Linked DNA regions of Homo sapiens: region 1 is linked to region 2. The links come from fine-mapping of genetic effects on plasma protein levels. A gene starts in region 2. The other region holds a variant in brackets. All regions are shown on one strand. Distances are from middle to middle.

Region 1 (9,890 bases), 46 kb before region 2:
ATTTTTTTGCCGAACCTTACATTTACAGAAGAGAGAGAGAGAGAGTCCTAAAGGTAAACCCCAGGTTGTTTTTCTATTATTCTACTCTGCCTCTAAACAAAAGCCACCCAAAAACCTCCTTAAAAAGAGACATAATATAGGTGTGTTCCGTTTCTGAAAAATGCAAACAGCGCTGTTATGATTTTTTACACCTTTCTGCATGTACGTAATGCTGACAGAGAGATGAACTCTTCCATAAACATGGTTGGATGTTTACCTCGTTTCTGTCTTCTTTGTGAGCTTGGCGAGTGCTGGGGCTAGTCAGTAACTTGAAGTCCAAGATCCCTAATTCAGCTCTGTGCTCTCACAGCCTTACCAAAGCCTGGTAAAAGGACAAATGAGACATCCGAGTTGGTTGTAAGGAAGTAAAGTGGAGTCCCTACAACCAGCTGGGTGACTTTAGCCAAGGGACTTGCTTCTTGGGACCTTGATTTCAAAAAAAGGGGACGTTGGATTCACTCTATCATCTAAATCTGTAAGTGCAAAAAGTAATACAAGAGAAGTGTCCTGTAGAGCACGAGGAATGTTGCAGGACATGGGTTCTCAAAGTGTGGTCGGACCCCTAAGCGTACCCTCTCCCTTCTCCGATTATGTATCTATTCAAGGACAGGTTTTTTTCATAGACTTCAGTTAAAACAACATGTCAGCGAGGCGTGGTGGCTCACACCTGTAATCCCAGCAGTTTGGGAGGCTGAGGTGGGAGGATCACCTGAGATCAGGAGTTCGAGACTAGCCTGACCAATACAGTGAAACCTTGTCTCTACTAAAAATACAAAAAGTAGCTGGGCTTGGTGGCAGGCGCCTGTAATCCCAGCTACTCAGGAGGCTGAGGCAGGAGAATCGCTTGAATCCGGGGGGCAGAGGTTGCAGTGAGCCGAGATTGCGCCATCGCACTCTAGCCTGGGTGACAAAGCAAGACTCCATCTCAAAAAAAAAAAAATCACAAGAGATGGAATGAAGGAGATATGAGAATCTGTAGACCAAACATTTAAAAGATTTGCAAAAATATAAAACAACACCACTCTGCAAATGTCTTTGTTTTAGAAAATATAGCTATTGTTGGTAAAAATGTGTAATTTATGTTAACATGCAATGGATTTTTACAGTTATTGTTACATGTATTAATAAATATTTGAATTTTCCCAGCTATAATTTCTAATATAGCAAGGCAAATATAAAAATGTCTCACATGAACAAAAGCTCTTGGAGGCTGTCAATCATTTTTAAGAGCATAAAGGGGTCCTGAGACCAAAAATTTGAGACCTGCTGTTGTAAGTTTCATCAGTCCCTTTCTTAGCTCTGTTATTTATCTTTTCATTCTTCAGAAGCAGAGAATTGTATATCCAAAGATGTTAATTTCAGCATTATCTACAATAGCAAAGAAAAAAGAGACTAAAAGACAATGTCTAACACCAGAGGAAAGGTTCAACCATAATAAATATGCTCCATTGACCCAATAGAATTAGATATTATAGTATTATAAGAAAATGATTAGGGGCCGGGCACGGTGGCTCATGCTTGTAATCTCAGCACTTTGGGAGGCCAAGGTGGGTGAATCACTTGAGGTCGGGAATTCGAGACCAGCCTGACCAACGTGGAGAAACCCCATCTCCACTAAAAATACAAAAAAATTAGCCGGGCGTGGTGGCCCATGCTTGTAATCCCAGCTACTCGGGAGGCTGAGGCAAGAGAATCACTTGAACCCAGGAGGCTGAACAGAAAAGGACAATGGCCTCTTTGTCCCTAGTGTAAGAGAGCTGGGGGGAGCCCTAGGAACCCACCAATGGTAAATTTAAAATGCTGCCTTAAAGGTATTGAACAAGTCCGGGTGTGATGGCTCATGCCTGTAATCCCAGCACTTTGGGAGCCCGAGGCGGGAGGATCACTTTAGCCCAGGAGTTCAAGATCAGCCTGGGCAACATGGTGAGACCCCATCTCTACAAAAAATATAAAAAGTAGCCAGGCGTGGTGGTGCAGGTTGCGGTGAGCCGAGATCAAGCCATTGCACTCCAGCCTGGGCAACGAAAGCGAAACTCTGCCTCAAAAAAAAAAGAAAAGAAAAGAAAAGAAAATGATTATATGGCATAATGTTAAGTGAAAAGACATAAATTGGCACTACCCCAATTGTAAAATGTGAGATTGGAACCTAATATATAAAAATGGAAACATTAATCAGTTACTATACTGTATTTCAATGTCACAATTATGGGTAGTGTTTTTCTTTAAACTAGTGGCTATTATTATTTTGTTATCTTTTTTTTTTAATTTTATTTTCTCTTTTTTTTTTTTTTTTTGAGACAGGGTGTCTCTCTGTCACCCAGGCTGGAGTACACTGGTGCAATCACCAGCTCACTGCAGCTTCAACCTCCTAGTCTCAAGTGATCCTCCCACCTCAGCCTCCTGAGTAGCTGGGATTACGGTGTGCACCACCACACCTGGCTACTTTTTATATTTTTTGTAGAGATGGGGTCTCACCATGTTGCCCAGGCTGATCTTGAACTCCTGGGCTAAAGTGATCCTCCCGCCTCGGGCTCCCAAAGTGCTGGGATTACAGGCATGAGCCATCACACCCAGACTTGTTCAATACCTTTAAGGCAGCATTTTAAAGTTACCATTGGTGGGTTCCTAGGGCTCCCCACAGCTGTCTTACACTAGGGACAAAGAGGCCATTGTCCTTTTCCGTTTAGCAAGCCGAAAAGGTTCCCAATTTTGAAAAGCTACCTTCCTCCAGCATACCCCCACAAAAGTCATTGTCCTGAAGACCTCTGGGAACATGACAAATGGCAGATCTGTGCAAATATACAACCGCCCTAACCGAGGCCACAGCCACCCGGCCCACTTAGGAGAGCTGGCATTGAATGGGAAGTGGCCGGCGCTTTCAGCCTGGCCAGCGGGCTGACAAGGGGTCTTTGTAATGGGAACAAAACTGCATCCCCCTTCACCTGGAGATTCTCCAGCACCCCCTCCTCTCCTGCACTGCCCCCCAGCACACATCCGTGCACACACGCACACAGAGGGGGGTTTATGTTTGCTTCGTAGGTGTGTTAATAAAAATCTCCTTAGGGTCACCGCTTCTGAGGTTTTGAAGTGAAACACTGCCCAAAAGGAGGGTTCATCTTCAAGGCAGCCTCACCTTCACCCCATTAAGTAGCTCCTGCTCACATCTTTCCTGAAACCACTTAAGGTAATTCCCTGTCTTAACGCTGAAGGTGCTTATGGTTCTATTTCAGACTCCTGGTGTGGGCAGTACAGGGTGAAAGAAATGCCCCGGATAATTAAGGAGATTATTTTATTCAGGCTATTAGGGAGAACTTTCATGAATACAGAGAAAGTTCTCAGCAAAAAGGAAGTGGGGGAAGCTGGGGTGGTACAGAGGCAAGGCTCTGGGGGAAGAATGGACACGGCTTATTTGAAGCATGCGATGGGAATCTACAGAATATGCAAGGGCAGGGGAGTCCTTTGCAATTTCTACCTCCCTTTGGAGCACCAAATAAAGTCCAATATGGGCAACAGAAGACCAGAAAGCTGGCCTCCCCTGTAGCTGAGGAAGGAGGAAATGAGTAGTGAGAATGATGTCCCAGATGCCTCCAGGGGAGGCGGTTCTGGGGACTGGGGTAAGTAGGGGCTGTGGGGAGAGAAAGAGGGTGTGGGAGGAGGAAACACATCTCCAGGTGCTCTTTGGCAGCTGAAATTTCATTCCTCAAATTCAGAAATCATCAGGCCAGGCATGGTGGCTCACGCCTGTAATCCCAGCACTTTGGGAGGCTGAGGTGGGTGGATCACCTGAGGTCAGAAGTTCAAGACCAGCCTGGCCAACATGGTGAAACTCCGTCTCTACTAATAATACAAAAATTAGCCAGGCGTGGTGGTGCACACCTGTAATTCCAGCTACTTGGGAGGCTGAGGCAGGAGAATCGCTTGAACCCGGGAGGCAGAGGTTCCAGTGAGCCAAGATCACGCCATTGCACTCCAGCCTGGGCAACAAGAGTGAAACTCAAAAAAAAAAAAAAATTTTTTTCAGAAATTATCTCCTCCCATCCTGTCCTTCTCCCTCCGTCTTCCTCAAATGGCAGGAGGGTGAGGCTATGATTGAAAGAAAACCACTCAATTCCTTGTATCCCCCCAAACACATGTACACACATGCAGCTCTGTTCCAACCTCCTGGAAGGAAACTGGCTGTCACCAAAGGATTCCAGCCAAATACTTGGGGTTCCTCAAGGATATCTTTTGAAAACAACAACAACAAAAATGTAGATTTTTTTTTTTTTTTTTTTGAGACAGTCTCGCTCTTGTTGCCCAGGCTGGAGTGCAATGGCACGATCTTGGCTACTGCAACCTCCACTTCCCGGGTTCAAGCGATTCTCCTGCCTCAGCCTCCTGAGTAGCTGGGATTACAGGCGCCTGCCACCATGACCAGCTAATTTTTGGACTTTTAGTAGAGATGGGGTTGCACCATGTTGGCCAGGTTGGTCTCAAACTCCTGACCTCAGGTGATCCGTCCGCCTCGACCTCCCAAAGTGCTGGGATTACAGGCGTGAGCCATCGTGCCCAGCCAAATGTAGATGGTTGAACAGCTCCAGTCACAATGTAAAGTT[T/G]TAATTTTCCTCTGCAATAAAAGCAGCCTTTTTCTTAATGTTTTCTTTGATAGAGGGAAGCCCCCACCACCACTCCCGGCTTCTTTGCCCCAGCCCTCCTCTTTATCTAACCCAGCCAGATGTGTGCATTTTTTTTTTCCATTCACATGGCACAGGGTTTGAAGATGAGCTGTATCCCCCATTAGCCACTCTTTCCACCCCCGGAGAGACTCTGATTGTGGAGGATTCGTGCTGCTGACTGTAGATAAAACAATCGAGATGGGGGGCTGCTTTGGAAACGGGGGGGGGTGTGGGGATTTTTCCATCTGGAATCACAAGGCTTTTGGTGGTAGGCCCAGATGGAACCACGATCTGTCTGTGGAGACAAAGCTTCTTTTGGAACTGGTCATGGCCACAGGAATATGAGGTTTTTGACAATACGGTGGCCAAGAGATAGGAAACTGAAGTGGGTTATGAAATGCCAAGGACAGATCACTCTGACTCTGGTGAAGTAAGCCCATTAGTAAGCTGAACTCATGTAATTCATCAAGGAGCTTCCTTGAGCCGGTGAAAACAAGGATTGTAGAACTGTGAGTTCAGACCTGGACGTTAGAAAAACAACTCCCAAGTCAGCCAGTCTCCACCCTCTTAGCTTAAGTCATCTTTCGGCTGGGAGCAAACATGCTTCCTTACCACACCAGAACAATGCTAGGTCTTCAATTATTGTAAAGAATTTTACAAATGCTGAGTGTCCCTGTCGACACTATTAATGAACATCCTCTAAGCTGCACTTAAGCCAAATCCCAAGGGATAATTAGGGATACGGAACAATGATACAATGTAGATTGCCAGTTTGCTTGAAGCTCCCAACATCCAATTAGAGGGTGGTAGCGATTTCCCAGAGCACAGGAGATGAAAACCATCTGTCACAGCCTGCTTCCTAAATCCTCCCTTCCAGGAGCTCTTTCTGTCACCTAATAATGCCAAAAAGGAGCACCTTCTCGGCCCTGAAAGCCCATCTTCCGACCAGACATGAGTTAACAAGCTGCGCGCCCCAGGGCAGACCACATTTCCTCTCTGAGCCTTCATTTTCTCTTCTATAAAATGAACCTGCTGGACATGGGTTGGTGGCTTTCAAACTTTTGAAAGCAGTGGAAACTTTTGTTTTTCTCAAGAGGAAAGCTTGATGATGGAACTCAATTTGGAGTATCTTTATGTCACTGAGAGGAAGTATAATAAACACTCCACTAATCAGACTGCTGGAGGGAGACGGCTCAGCTCTTTTGTGTCTTAAATCTCCAAGCAGACTATCAGTCCCCATGGATTGGATCACTGCCTGCAAGTATTAACTGCTTAATAAATGTCACGTAGGAAAAAATGTGTGCTTCATTGGGAAACTGTGTATCCTTTAGAGCATACCCTTCCAGGTTATCTGAGTGCGATGCTTTAGGGTCTCTGGGCCATTCATTGCCTTTGAGCTATTTTTCAAATCTGTAAATTGTAGATAACTGATAGCAATGTAAATAATTCCTGTTTGCAGGCATGCAAATACATTCTGTCCCGAGGTGGTTCAATTTACTTCCTATTTTCCAAAGGAAAGCCAGTTTCCTTCTATTTGAAATATGTTTCCTTCTATTCGTAAATATATTTCCTTCTATTCGTAAATACACTTCAACATTGCTTTTCTCCATATAAATTTGTGCCTCTTTTGACTTCTCATTTGAACCGGTTGTCACATCTTACCAGCCTTCATTAATGATGCACTAAATACAATTTTAACATGTCCATTTTATGTTTGTAGGAATGTCATGATTTTAGCTTTCTTTGAAAATTGCCTTAGTTAAAAAGTTTATCAATAAAAATGAACATTTTTTTTTTCCGAGTTCTCCCCTGATGTCCAATAGCATTTATACTCACACACAGTTGACTTTAAAAGTATAATGTTATGGAAATGCCTTTAGGAAAGCAACACATGCTCATTGGGAATAAGAAATGAGAGAAAGAGCCACATGGGATACTAGGAGCTAGGCTCCCTTAGGCATAAAAGGGCAAGTCGGGGAGCAGTTACCCCAACTCAAGAGAGAAGCTATTGAGAAGGCTGGTGATAGGAGCTGAGGGCTGAAACAGGCGGAGGCAACCAACCCAGGGCAACCCAGTGTAATCACACCAGACCAATCTGGTTCAACTCTTTTTTTTTTTGAGACAGAGTCTCGCTCTGTTGCCCAGGCTAGAGTGCAGTGGCGCAATCTTGGCTCACTGCAAGCACCGCCTCCCAGGTTCACACCATTCTCCTGCCTCAGCCTCCTGAGTAGCTGGGACTACAGGCACCTGCCACCACACCTGGCTAATTTTTTTTACTTTTAATAGAGACGGGGTTTCACCGTGTTAGCCAGGATGGTCTCGATCTCCTGACTTCGTGATCTGCTCACCTCGGCCTCCCAAAGAGCTGGGATTACAGGCGTGAGCCACCGTGCCCAGCCCTGGTTCAACTTTTATGTAACAAAGTCGTGAGTTGTTTTTTGGTTGCCATGGATCCCCAAGTTGAAAGTCAAGTAACCTGAACATGCCCAGATGAACCAAGTGTGCAACCACAAGTGGAACCTAAGTGCTGGAAGCCGGGAGCAAGGACTGCTTTCAGAGGTGGACTGCACATGGCAGGATCCAGGATCCAATCAGATTGAGCTCTAGTGTCACCCCGTGGCAGGATCCAGTCAGATCATGCCTCCCCAGCATCACCTCATTGCAAGATCCAATCAGATCATGGTTCATTACCCTTCGCCTATAAAACCTGCCCCAGCCCACCAGCTAGGCGACATAGATTTCAGCCTTGCCTCCTGTCTTGCCAGTCAATTCCCAATAAAGGTTTTCAGTGCCATGGTATTGGCTTGTGTGTGCATCAGGCAGTGAGCCCATTGCTTGCTGGGTAATACCAGCAGAAAGAGAACAGAAATGAATATTCCAGCCTCACTCTGCTCCCTGCCTTCATGGGCCAAATCCAGCTGGACCAAGAGGGAAAGGGAGTACACATGTTCATAGGCGTCAGCCTTCTTGGTGGAGGGGACATCACAGTCATTCAAACAGCGAACCAAGACAGCTTGGGATGAGAATCAAACCACTCATAGCTCACTGTCTATATTAACATGACTTTACTATTCCACTGTCCTCATCAAAGTAACTTCACTATTATTCCAGAAAATGCTTGCCCAGGAAGATAAAAGCTGTAAATAACTCTACTGTTCATCCCAGGAACTTCCTGAAGGACACACCATGTCTTCAACAGGAAGCATCAGTTTATAGGTTCAATAGGAAGACAGTTTATACCCCAAGGTTCTTTGAACGCCTCAGCCAGAAATCCTCACTTTGCTGTGTCTACCAATCATGATCTTAGCAACCCCCATCAAGCATGCCACCTCTGCACTGAAAGAGCCACCTTAAACCAGGCCTCAAAGTCTCAATAAAAATCACTTTGCCCTCCCACTTTGGGAAGCTACTGAGGCTTTGTGGAGGGGGTACTCTACCTTACCACGGTGAACAATCAACTCAGCCTTGCCTTCTCCGCAGGTTGCTCTGGTGATATTTAGGAGATGGCATTTGACAGAAGGGAAGCATATTTGGAGATGATTGTGTATGTGAGCCTGAATCATCCAGGCAGGTTTCTTCCCTGCTCCAGTTCAGTGGGACGACTGCATAAATATTCTTTCTTTTTCCTATGTGGATACAAAATATTGAGTTTGGGGGCTGGAAGGAATCCCAGCGATGAACTCATCCCTCCCCTCCTTTATGGATTAGGTCAGTAGAACTTACACAGGGAGGTCAGCCAGGGGGCTGGGATCTGAATTCAAGTCCTGCGGCTCTGAGCCAGGTGGCCTGCATTTATTCATTCTCTTGCTGCCATGTTTCTCTTTTCTTTTCTTTTTTTTTTTTTTTTTTTTTTTTTTTGAGATGGAGTTTCACTCTTGTTGCCCAGGCTGGAGTGCAATGGCATGATCTCCGCTCACTGCAACCTCCACCTCCTGGGTTCAAGTGATTCTCTTGCCTCAGCCTCCTGAGTAGCTGAGATTATAAGCATGTGCCACCACACCCAGCTAATTTTGTATTTTTAGTAGAGACAGGGTTTCTCTATGTTGGTCAAGCTGGTCTCGAACTCCTGACCTCAGGTGATCCACCCGTCTCGGCCTCCCAAAGTGCTGGGATTACAGGCATGAGCCACTGTGCCCAGCTTTTTTTTTTTTTTTTTTGGTTTAACAATTGTTTGCTGTGTACCAGGTATTGTGCCAGGTGACGAGCACTCAGAAGTGGGGCCACGTTTTCGAGATTCTTGCCCCGTTTTTCCTTCCGCCCCTTTAAAGCAGATCCTGGGCTCTGTGCTCCTTTACTGAAGAAAGTGGTGGAAGGAAAGAAAGTCGATAGCAGTCTAAGAACTCCCAGCTTCCAATCCCTAAAGTCTAAACATTTGGGAAGAACAGAGGAGATTACAGGTAAGGACCCAAAATGTAGGAAAGGTTTTTCCTGGGCTGGTGTTGGAGGGGAGAGGATGAGAACAGAGAAGGGATGGGTCTCAGGAGGAGCAACCCAAGAGAGAAGGCCTGCGTGGACAGGACTCGACGGGGCATGGAGGGCTCTGTGACATGAAGCGGCAGAGTGACCCCCATACCTCCCCAGAGCCATGTGGACAAGACTGAGGGCCAGCCCAGGAGTGACCTGTGGAACCAATAACCAGCACCAATGCCCTGGCACCATTACGGTCTCGACATCATTAAGACCCTGAAACTCTAAAACAACCAGTGGAGAGCTGGTGCTGCAGACACTCAAAGAGGCAGACGCACAGAGCCAAGGAGGCTCTTGGATTTCGCCCCAAAACTGGGTCAAGGGGACAGAGTCTCCTCCCTCCCATTCCCGACCAGTGCGCTGGGAGTGGCCACACTAGGCATGGAGCAGCCTGTTTGCCAACACACTCTGGTCATAGGAGAAAAAAGAAAATGCCTCCTGAGTTTGGTTTTAAGGAGCTCCTTAACAAAAGGCAGCCCTGAGCAAAGTGATGCTGGGTGAGGGATGCTGCTTTTGCTTTTAAAATAAGCCACAATCTTCCCAGCAAACAAAGAGTGTCTTCTGAGTAACTCAAAGAATGTTTCTTTTCTCCTGGTACAGGGAGGGCATCTTTCAAATGAAAGTCCGTATCTCCTGTTTTCAGGAAGAAACTAGATTAGAATGCCCTTCTTGCATCTGCTGTTTTTCAAGTGCCTTTAGCTCAAAATAATCCTTATGCCAAAGTGGTAT
Region 2 (9,890 bases):
GAATCCAGGCATAACCATCAACAAAAAGAACTCAACTCCAAATCTGCTCATCTGTCTTATCCCCAAGTCTCCCTTTCCTCCAGGCCCCTAGTACTGTCACTGAGCTCAGGTAACAATTGTCCGGATCATGTCTGGAGCTTCACCAGCACAAAGCTTTCTTTCCTATGTGAAGCCAGAGTAGAATGCTGCCATCTGCCAGCTGCCCCACGCTCTCGGCTGTGGGGTAGCTGCAGAGCGGTGTAGGGGAAAAAACATGAACTCTGAAATTATCATATCAGCTGTGCCACCCTGAACAAATTACAATCCTCAATGGCTCTGAATCTCAGTTTGCCCACTTGTAAACTGATGTCAGCAATACCTACCCTGCGAGATTGACCTGGGAATTAAATGAAACTCTGCAGGTAAAGCACCGGACCTACACTCGGGGCTCAGTGAAGAGGAGCTATTTTTATAGACTTTCACTCACTTGGCTGAGTAATTCAGTTCCAGAAACAAAACGGACAGTTTGAGAAAGCAGTGATTTAAAATGAATCCCAAGCCAGAGGTCCTTTTGGCACTTTACCTGAAGTGAACTGGATTCTGTTTGGATTAAGGAAAAACAGACTTGTTCTCTAAGAATTTAGCAGTCAATTCAGACAGATGCCAAATCCATGAAAAACTCTCTGATTTTGTCACGCAAACCCCAGAGCGGAAGTCAGACCCAGGCAGATTCAGGTTTTCAGGTGACCTGAAGCAAATCGTTTCACTGGCCAGTCTAGATCTCAGTGGTTCCAAGCCCAGCTACCATTCGCATTACCTGGAGATCTTTTCTAGACTATGGGTACCAAGCCCCACTCCAAACCAGTTTCATCAGGATTTCTGCAGGGTGCAGACTGAGGATCAAGAATTTTAAGAGCCCCTGGGGTGATCCTAATGTAAGCTCCACTGGACCAGAAGTGCTCCAAGATCCTCGCCAGGTATCCCTGGTGCCTACAACCATGTATGATTCAGAGTAGATATTTAGTATATGTTTATTGAGTAAATGAATGAAGATTCTGACTCAACTTTTTGCTGTTTTCATGTTCATAATTTATGAGGTAAAAGAAGAAAAGAAAAGGAGTTTAATCCCAAGAAAGAATCACAGAGCAGAGCTGTCCAATAGAAATTTCTGCAATGGGCCAGGCGCAGTGGCTCACGCCTGTAATCCCAGCACTTTGGGAGGTTGAGGGGGGTGAATCACGAGGTCAGGAGTTCAAGACCAGCCTGGCCAATATGGTAAAATCCTGTCTGTACTAAAAATTACAAAAAATTAGCTGGGCACAGTGGCAAGCGCCTGTAATCCCAGCTACTGGGGAGGCTGAGGCAGGAGAATTGCTTGAACTCAAGCGGCAGGGGTTGCAGTGAGCCGAGATTGCATCACTGCACCACAGCCTAGGCGACAGGGTGAGACTCCATCTCAAAAAAAAAAAAAAAGAAAAGAAAAAGAAAAGAAATTTCTGCAGTGATGGACATGTTCTATAATCTGTACTATTCATTACAGTATCTATGAGCCATAATGGCTACTGAGTACTTGAAATATGGCTAGCGTGATTGGAGAAACTGAACTTTTAATTCTATTTAATGTTAATTAAATTCAAATTTAAATAGACACATATGACTTCTGGCTACCATACTGAACTTCTGGCTACCATTGCAGAAATTTCTTTTCTTTTTTTTTTTGAGATGGAGTCTCACCCTATCACCTAGGCTGTGGTGCAGTGATGCAATCTCGGCTCACTGCAACCCCTGCCACTTGAGTTCAAGCAATTCTCCTGCCTCAGCCTCCCCAGTAGCTGGGATTACAGGTGCTTGCCACTGCGCCCAGCTATTTTTTTGTAGTTTTTAGTACAGACAGGATTTTGCCATATTGGCCAGGCTGGTCTTGAACTCCTGACCTCGTGATTCACCCCCCTCAGCCTCCCAAAGTGCTGGGATTACAGGCATGAGCCACTGCGCCTGGCCCATTGCAGAAATTTCTATTGGACAGTTCTGCTCTGTGATTCTTTCTTGGGATTAAACTCCTTTTCTTTTCTTCTTTTACCTCATAAATTATGAACATGAAAACAGCAAAAAGTTGAGTCAGAACATCTACCTTTTATAAACACATCTATACCTGTGTGCCTCCATGCCCCTCTTTTACTAACAGCACCCCATTTACCTTTAGGGCAGTCCTTCTCCCCCAACCACCTGTAGTCTTGGCTAATGAAATTGCCCCATCCTCCTCTAGCCAAGGATCCAAGCTAAGTCAACAGACTCTTCTCTCTGGAAATTTCACTCTAGCTTCTGTGTCACAAGAATAGAAAATGTGTCAGAGCAGATTAATATGAGTGTTGATGCCCTAAGACAACATGCGTTCATTTGCAGACCATTAGTCCAGAGTGTGACGATAACAAATGTGACACATGATATGAGTTAGGCGTCATTATCGTCATCCTTGTCATCATGAAAGTGACTTGTACCCAGCAGCTCAGATGTGCCTGCTCCTGTACTAGGTATGTAATTTGCCTAGCTTCTCTTATGCATCCTTTCTTCATCTGTAAAATGGAAATCATACTCATCCTAACTCTTCCACGGTTTTTGTGAAGACAGCAAAAGGAATAATTGTCATGAGGGCCGGGCGCGGTGGCTCACGCCTGTAAGCCCAGCAATTTGGGAGGCCGAAGCAGACAGATCACTTGAGGTCAGGAGTTGGAGACCAGCCTGGCCAACATGGTGAAACCCCATCTCTACTAAAAATACAAAAATTAGACAGACATGGTGGCAGGCACCTATAATTCCAGCTACTCAGGAAACTGAGGCAGAGAATCACTTGAACCTGGGAGGCAGAGGCTGCAGTGAGCAGAGATCGAGCCACTGCACTCCAGCCTGGGTGACAGACCGAGACTCTGTCTCAGGGGAAAAAAAAAAAAAAGAAAAAAAAGAAAAATAACGGTCACGAAAGCTTTGAGCCAAATAAGGAGTTACCCAAGTGTCTGTTGGAGGAGTTGTTCCCAAGGCATAGGTGTGGGGAGTCATGGGAGGGCTTGATGAAGGACCCAGGATCTGAGACCAATTCAAAAGTTGTGCCATACCAGGTTAAGTCACTTGTTCTCTCTGGGCTTTTGGCTTAGATAAGACTGGGTTATACACATCTCTTTCCAGTTTCACCATTTTCTAATCTATTTGCAAGCCCCCTTGCCTGACACATACCCTCTTCCACTTCTATGCACACATGCCAGAAAATTCTCTAGCCTAGTCCATGCTGACCTTGTACCCAACTCATTTCTTCTTTTCCCAGCTCCTCACCTGATTGGGAAGTTGCTCTGGGTATGCACTCCCACAGCTTCCTGAATAACCCTCTGGCAGAGCACCTTATGGAAATCATGCTTAACTATCTCCTCCACTAGTAGGCCATAAGTCCAACTAGAGCAAAGGCCATGTCCCTCTTGTTCACTACTGCTTCTCCAGTGCCCAGTACAGAGTCAAACACATAGAAGATGTTCTATGAGTACTTACTCTTTGAATGAATACCCTACATCTATTTTATTTGTCATTTCAGAAAACACATGGTATTATCTCATGCTGCGTAACAAGTTAGTCCAAAACTTAGCAGCTTAAAACGAGAATAGTCACTTATCCTCTCTCAATTTCTGTGGGACAGAAAGTCAGACAGGGCACAGCAGGGCTGGTTGTTCTCTGCTCCATGTCTGGGACCTCAACTCTAAGACTTAAAGGCCGAGGGCTGGCAAGACCTGAAGTCTCGGTTTGCCATGATCTGGTGATTGACTCTGGCTGTTGGCTGAGAGCCCAGCAGCAGCTGTCAGCGAGAACACCCTCATGTGGCCTCACCATGTGGCTTGGGCTTCTTCACAACATGGTAGCTGGTTTCTTCTGAGGAACCAAGAAGAAGCTGTCTCCTTTTTATGGCCTGGTCTTAAGAGTCATACAGCTTCACTTTCATCACACTTTATTCATTAGACACCAGTCACCAAGTACATCCCACATTCAGGGGGAAAGGAATTAGATCCCATCTTTTGAAAAGAATGGTCAAGAGCTTGCAAGCCAATTTTAAAACCAGCACCACTTGGCTAACACAAGAAGCAATGTATAGAGTGAAAAACAAGTGTCTGAAGAAGTAAGACTTCTGTTCACATTCTAGCTCTGCCACTTACTAGCTGTGTGAGTTTGGGGAAATTACCCTCTGAGACTTGGTTTATACAATACAGGGTGATAGTTGTTGATCCCTAGTGATTTTTCTACGCTTGGAGTCTTCTTGCCTTAGTGAGTTTAAGAAGATCCAGGCTGAACTAACTTTCTTGGAGTCTTGCAATCCTTCCCATCACTGATAACCCTTGGTTTCTGACCCTGGAGGTAGTAAGAGGTTGCTACGGGAGCACAGGGTACCCAGAAAGTTCAGATACTAGGGACAGCTTTAGAGAACAGATGTGAAACCACTGAGGCCCTGGGGTCTCTCTAAGGCCTTTAACCCAGCCCTTGTGTAGTAACCTCAGCTTGTCAAGAAATGCAACGACCCCACAACTAAGGAATCTGAATCTGCCGGCTAAGGCCAAGGAATCTGCATTCTCCCACAAGACTGTGATTCATGCTAACTACAGGCAGGGGAGAGGGGGAGCATCTTAAAGCACACACTCGGCCGTCTCTTCCTAAAGTTCTTGGCTTCAGCCTAGAGATAGTGCCTTTCCCACCATTTACAACTCTATGGCATGAGGGAGGCGGAGGGTGCGTCCAGTGTCCAACCACGCACCACAGCTGGTTGTACTTTCACCTTCCTCTAGGCCAGCGGACCCTCCCCAAGCATTGCCTCCCACGCCCACGTCGCGGTCCCACCCTGGTCCGCGGGGTCCAGAGCGTCCAAAGCCCGGTCTAGGCAGATGGTCTAGGGGTGAGCTCTGCGCACCCCATTCCCACCAGTGCAGGCAATCGAATAAAACAGGGTGACTTTTAACCCTTTTCGTTTCCAGAGATAGTGACCCCCCGTCTCAATCCCTAGATGTCCTCCTCTAAGAACTGTGCGCGCTGGGAGGGACTCTGCGCTCACTCACTGTGACCACCTCGGCTGGGATATGGGGAAACTGAGGCCTACAGAGGGAAGGGAACTGCTGAACGTCCCAAAGCAACACAGGCACTGAATCCGGTCTAGAATCCCAGTCTTCCAGGCCAGTGCTCTCGGTCCTACCGGCTCAGGGCCCCTGCGAAGAATCTTTTTCAAGAAATTCCCGACCGCAGGAATTCCTTCTGCGCTAGGAATCTCCATGGAGTTTGCGCTCCCTCTGGCACGTTGAAAACGTCCTCCGCAGCTTCGCACCGGCTTCGCGGCGCCCTGACAGCTGGGTGAGGAGGGAGCGAATGCCCACCGGCGTCCTTGGGGTAACTTGGGACAGAGGCACCGCCGCGGGGGGCGGAGGACTGGGCGCGAAGGCGCTGGCCCTTTAAGGGGGGGACGGAGCGCATGCGCGGCGCGGGCCGTAGTCGAGCCTGGTGGGCGGCTGGCTGGCAGGGGACGTGGTCGGCGGCAGCGGGGCCCAGGGGCGGCGGGGCTGCAGCAGCGGCGGCCCCAGCTTCGCCGAGCAGCGATCGGCTGGTGGGCTTCTCGTTGGCGGGCTCCGCGTTGGCGGGCTGCTCCCCAGGCACCAGCGCAGCGCGCGCTCGCCCGGCTTCGTCACTCGCCTCCAGCTACATCCGCCGGCCGAGGCTGCGCGAGCCTCCGGGCTTGCGGTCCCCGCCCCGCGGTCCTTCCTCCACCCTCAGCCAGGGCAGCTGCAGCCCGAGCGAACAGCCACGGAGCATCCTCCGCCCGCCCGGGCCGCGCCACCGCCCATGCTGCAGCCAGTCCCAGGCAGCGACCCCGCGGCCGCAGCCCGCCGCTCAGTGACCTCAGCCTGGCCCCTGCGCGCCGCCCGAGCCGGTCCCGCTGAGCCGCGGGCCCCGTGCCCTGCGATGGCTCGGCTGGTGCAGCGCGGCGCCAGGTGCCAGCCGTCCTCCCGCTGAGACGCGCCCGAGTGGGGACCCGCTGGGCCTCGGGGCTCGCAGCCTTCGCCTCCCCGCCGCGCCCGCTCCCTTTCTGGGGACTCCGCCGCTGTTTCTGGGGACGAGGGGACAGGGGACCCAGACAAAGCCCACTTTGTGCAGGGAGTTGGCCGCAGGCGGGGAATGTGCGCGTCGGCGCGCGCCCCCTCCCCGCTCCCGGCCAGCTGCGAGTCTTGGCTCCCGGACTTGTCTCGTCGCGTCGGAGAAATCGCCCCCCAGCGCCGCTCTCCCGCCCGGGGGTCTTGGTTCCGAGCTCGCGCGGCCGGGAGTCGCCTCGGTCTTCCTTGGGGCGCGCGCAGATGTGAGCGTGCGAGAGTTGTGTAGGGGATTTTGTTCCCTCCGAAACTGAGACCCAGGGCGCCCAGTGGGCACCCGTGCCTTGACTCTGTCCTTTCTGCAGCCGCTGGTCCGAGCTGTCTGGCCTCAGTTTCCCTCCGACTTTTCTCCGCTCTGCCAGCCCTCACTGCTGCCCGTCATTGTTCTCGCAGTTAGATGGGGGTGCTTTGTGACGGCTGCCAAGTTGGGGTGTGTTCTCTTTATTCCGTTTTTCAAACAGAACAAGGCCTCCAAGGCTGACCCCAGACAACCCACCCCCTCGGACCCTAATTCACCTTATTGCACTGATTTTTTTTATCAAGTCGTATTTTATTGTACAGGAGCCACGCCCTGATTTCTTAAAGGCGCCTTGCACTCTGGCCATGTGTTATCTCTGCAGCCGGTGTGTGGGAGGCCTCTTGTGAGCCAGTTGTTTTCCCGCCTCCACCACCCCCCTCGAAGATTTAGGGATGCCAGGGGGGAAGAAGGTGGCTGGGGGTGGCAGCAGCGGTGCCACTCCAACGTCCGCTGCGGCCACCGCCCCCTCTGGGGTCAGGCGTTTGGAGACCAGCGAAGGAACCTCAGCCCAGAGAGATGAGGAGCCAGAAGAGGAAGGGGAAGAGGACCTGCGAGACGGAGGCGTCCCCTTCTTTGTCAACCGGGGTGGGCTACCTGTGGATGAGGCCACCTGGGAAAGGATGTGGAAACACGTGGCCAAGATCCACCCCGATGGAGAGAAGGTGGCGCAACGGATCCGTGGGGCCACAGACCTGCCCAAGGTGAGACACACGGGTCAGGGGGGTGATAGCACAGTCTAGGTTTTAGTGACCTTGGGGCCAAGAGTGAAGCCACACTCTCCTCCCACGGGGCAGGGGACCACTGGCTCGGTAAGATCTTTAAAATGCAGTGATATCATACCTGTCTAGGAGAACTTTCTCTCACTGCCATTCTAGGAGGGAGGCTCACATACATTGTCTCCAGGAGGCCCTCCCCGCTGTCTTTTAAAATGTCCACGTTTTACAGGAGGGGACAGCAGCAGATGGAACTAACAAACACAGTAGGATGGCTTGACGTCTCATTTGCTTGATGACACTTGCCAAGCCAGAGAACTGTGAGCAGACAAATGTAATGAATGACTAAGGAGATGCAGGGCTTCATATGTTGAGAAAATATTTTCGTGCATTATGTCATTGAATTCTCCCAACAGCCTTGTGACGTAAGTACAGTTTGGATTCCCATTTTACAGATGAGAAAGCTGAAAACTCAAGTAGGAACTCAAGATCCCACAGCCAGTAAGTGGCAGAACTGAGATTCAATTTCAGGTCTTCAGGAGAAGGGCGGGGGGTGGTGGTGGAGGGAAGTGTCCAGGTCCTCTTCTCTGTTGGACAGTAGATTCAAGCACATTAGAAGAGGTCTTATGGAGAAGCATAAAATGAAATAATTTTTCTGTGTTGGCTGTAACTCCTCCTCCATGACAGCTATACTTCAGTTGTGTCACCAACGAAAACAGAGGCTGTATCTCATTCATCTTTGTCTTCCCAAGGCCTCCTGTGTGCCTGGCACAGAACAGGCACTAGTGTGTGTGTTTGCTGAATGAAAGGGTATTTGAGAGTTTCTGTGCTGTACGCTGCTATATGGAAATACATGCCAGATATTAAAAAAAAAAAAAACATGATCAAGACTAGGAGGCACTTTGCCAAATGCAGAGGCCTGAAATCTCCAAAAAAGAGCCCTTTGGACTGAGTTCAGAGCCCAGTGCTTAGCCCTGCCTGCCCAGGTTGGAAGGAAGGGGGCTAGGAAGAATGGAAGTTAGTGTGAATTAGACATGAGGACAAGTGGCCCGTTTTGTTTTTACCAAGTTATTGGTACAGCCATCAGAAAGTGTCTTCTGGGAAAAAGAGAATCAAAGGTTGAAGGTTTAAATACTGCCTAATGTTTCCAGGGGAAACAAAATGTAGATTGATTTGGAATGGCCGCATAAATGTGCTCTGCACTGACTTAATATTTATTTAGCTAATCCCCTAGAGTTGGATGTTGTTTCCAGTTTTATTCCTAAAATGAATACTATGGTGAACATTCTAAAATATAAATTTTGGGGTTCATCTCTGATTATTTCCTTGGGAAAAATTCTGAAAGCGAAAGTATTGCGTCAAAGGATATTGACATTGGTAGGGGTCACCTGCTTATCTATATGGCCTCTTCCACCTATTTGAGATGCAGTTTTCTTATCAATAAGATGAGGTTGATTGTGGGGAAGAAATGAGAGACTGTGTGTTAAAGTATTTAACAAACTGTAAAGCCCCAAACCAGTACCTGGTTATTGGATATCAGTTACCTTTTTTTTTTTTTTTTGAGATGGAGTCTCACTCTTTCCACCAGGCTGGAGTGCAGTGGCATGATCTTGGCTCACTGCAGCCTCCACCTCCCTGGTTCAAGTGATTCTCCTGCCTCAGCCTCCTGAGTATCTGGGATTGTAGGCACCTACCACCACACCTGGCTAATTTTTGTATTTTTGGTAGAGATGGGGTTTCATTTTCAACATTTTGGCCAGGCTGGTCTCAAACTCCAGACCTCAGGTAATCCACCCACCTCAGCCTCCCAAAGTGCTGGGATTACAGGCGTGAACCACCACGCCCGGCCAGACATCCATCACCTTTACTTATGTGCTTTATCAAGCGGCAAGACTGGGTTTTGCTCAGATCATTTGTCCCGATGAGGCCAGAGTCACACCCTGCTCCCACGTGAACAAGTCGGGCAGCTCTCCAGCCATCTTGCTTATGTCTAAATCAGGCCATAAAAGAGTGTGAATGGTTCCCTGCAGAACTGCCACCACTCCTGGGAACTAAAAAAGAAATAGTGAGCTCACTAGTAACTGGTCTGTAATGTCATTCTGTCATCTTCAGTCCTCATGTACAGGAAAGACACGGATGAAGGAAGTCTAGGGGTGGGGGCTGTGTTGTGACAGACCCCTAGACTTCCATCGCTAGGGTAGAAGGAATTTTGTGAGAGGTTTGGAAAAATTTGAACCTCCCCCTCTTCAAACCACAGATCTCAGATAAATCGCATGAGTCTGCATGAGGTCCCTCCTCTACCTGGGCTCTGAGTAGAAAGGTACCCTTAGAGTCTGGGAGTGCAGTGGAGTCCAGGAGGCCTTGGAGAGAAGCAGCGTGGGTTGGGTGCCTGGGTGCCAGGGTGCCAGTGGCAGGGTGGGCTGACCCCGCCCTTACCATCCCTAGGGGCCATGCCACTGGAGCTGGCACAGGGTCATTCCCTACAGCGGCCACACAGTGTGGGGCTCAAGAAGTGTTTTGTTGGGAAAATTGGGAGATTTCTCACATAAAGATCCAGAGTTTTGGCATCTTTTCAGAAAATAAGAAGACTTGGGAACACATGGGAATCTGCAGTCCCACGTGGCAGCTGTCAGCTGGGGCTGGGGAGTGAGTCCTACTCCCCCATCTTGCCACTGTCTCCACCACTCACCTACCAGGCCTGCCTGCCCCGTGTATGTTACTTGCCCGGCCCCTGCATGT

Which allele goes with the higher level. Positions count from the first base shown, and alleles are read on the strand shown. Strength reflects both the effect of a copy and how common the allele is.
In carriers of allele G in region 1, the plasma level of the protein whose gene starts at base 5,477 in region 2 tends to be higher than with T alone (weak association).

The links. PIP is the posterior inclusion probability: the model's chance that the variant is causal. The UK Biobank Pharma Proteomics Project read protein levels with antibody pairs (Olink). The fine-mapping took linkage between variants from a reference panel, not from the people measured, so its PIPs are less certain.
Region 1: its variant is fine-mapped to the plasma level of the VASH1 protein (UK Biobank, PIP above 0.99).

Annotation. Positions count from the first base shown.
Region 1 is chr14:76,710,455-76,720,344 of GRCh38, forward strand. LOC105370577 (a long non-coding RNA gene) reads right to left here. Exons shown (of 2, transcript XR_007064273.1): 2 at 1-361. Among named protein-coding and RNA genes, the nearest start is that of VASH1, 46 kb to the right of the region's middle. The variant T/G (reference allele first, on the strand shown) is at 4,635.
Region 2 is chr14:76,755,992-76,765,881 of GRCh38, forward strand. It overlaps VASH1 (vasohibin 1), which reads left to right and starts at 5,477. Exons shown (of 7, transcript NM_014909.5): 1 at 5,477-7,139. The coding sequence starts at 6,831. RefSeq lists silencers at 5,444-5,633, 5,734-6,003.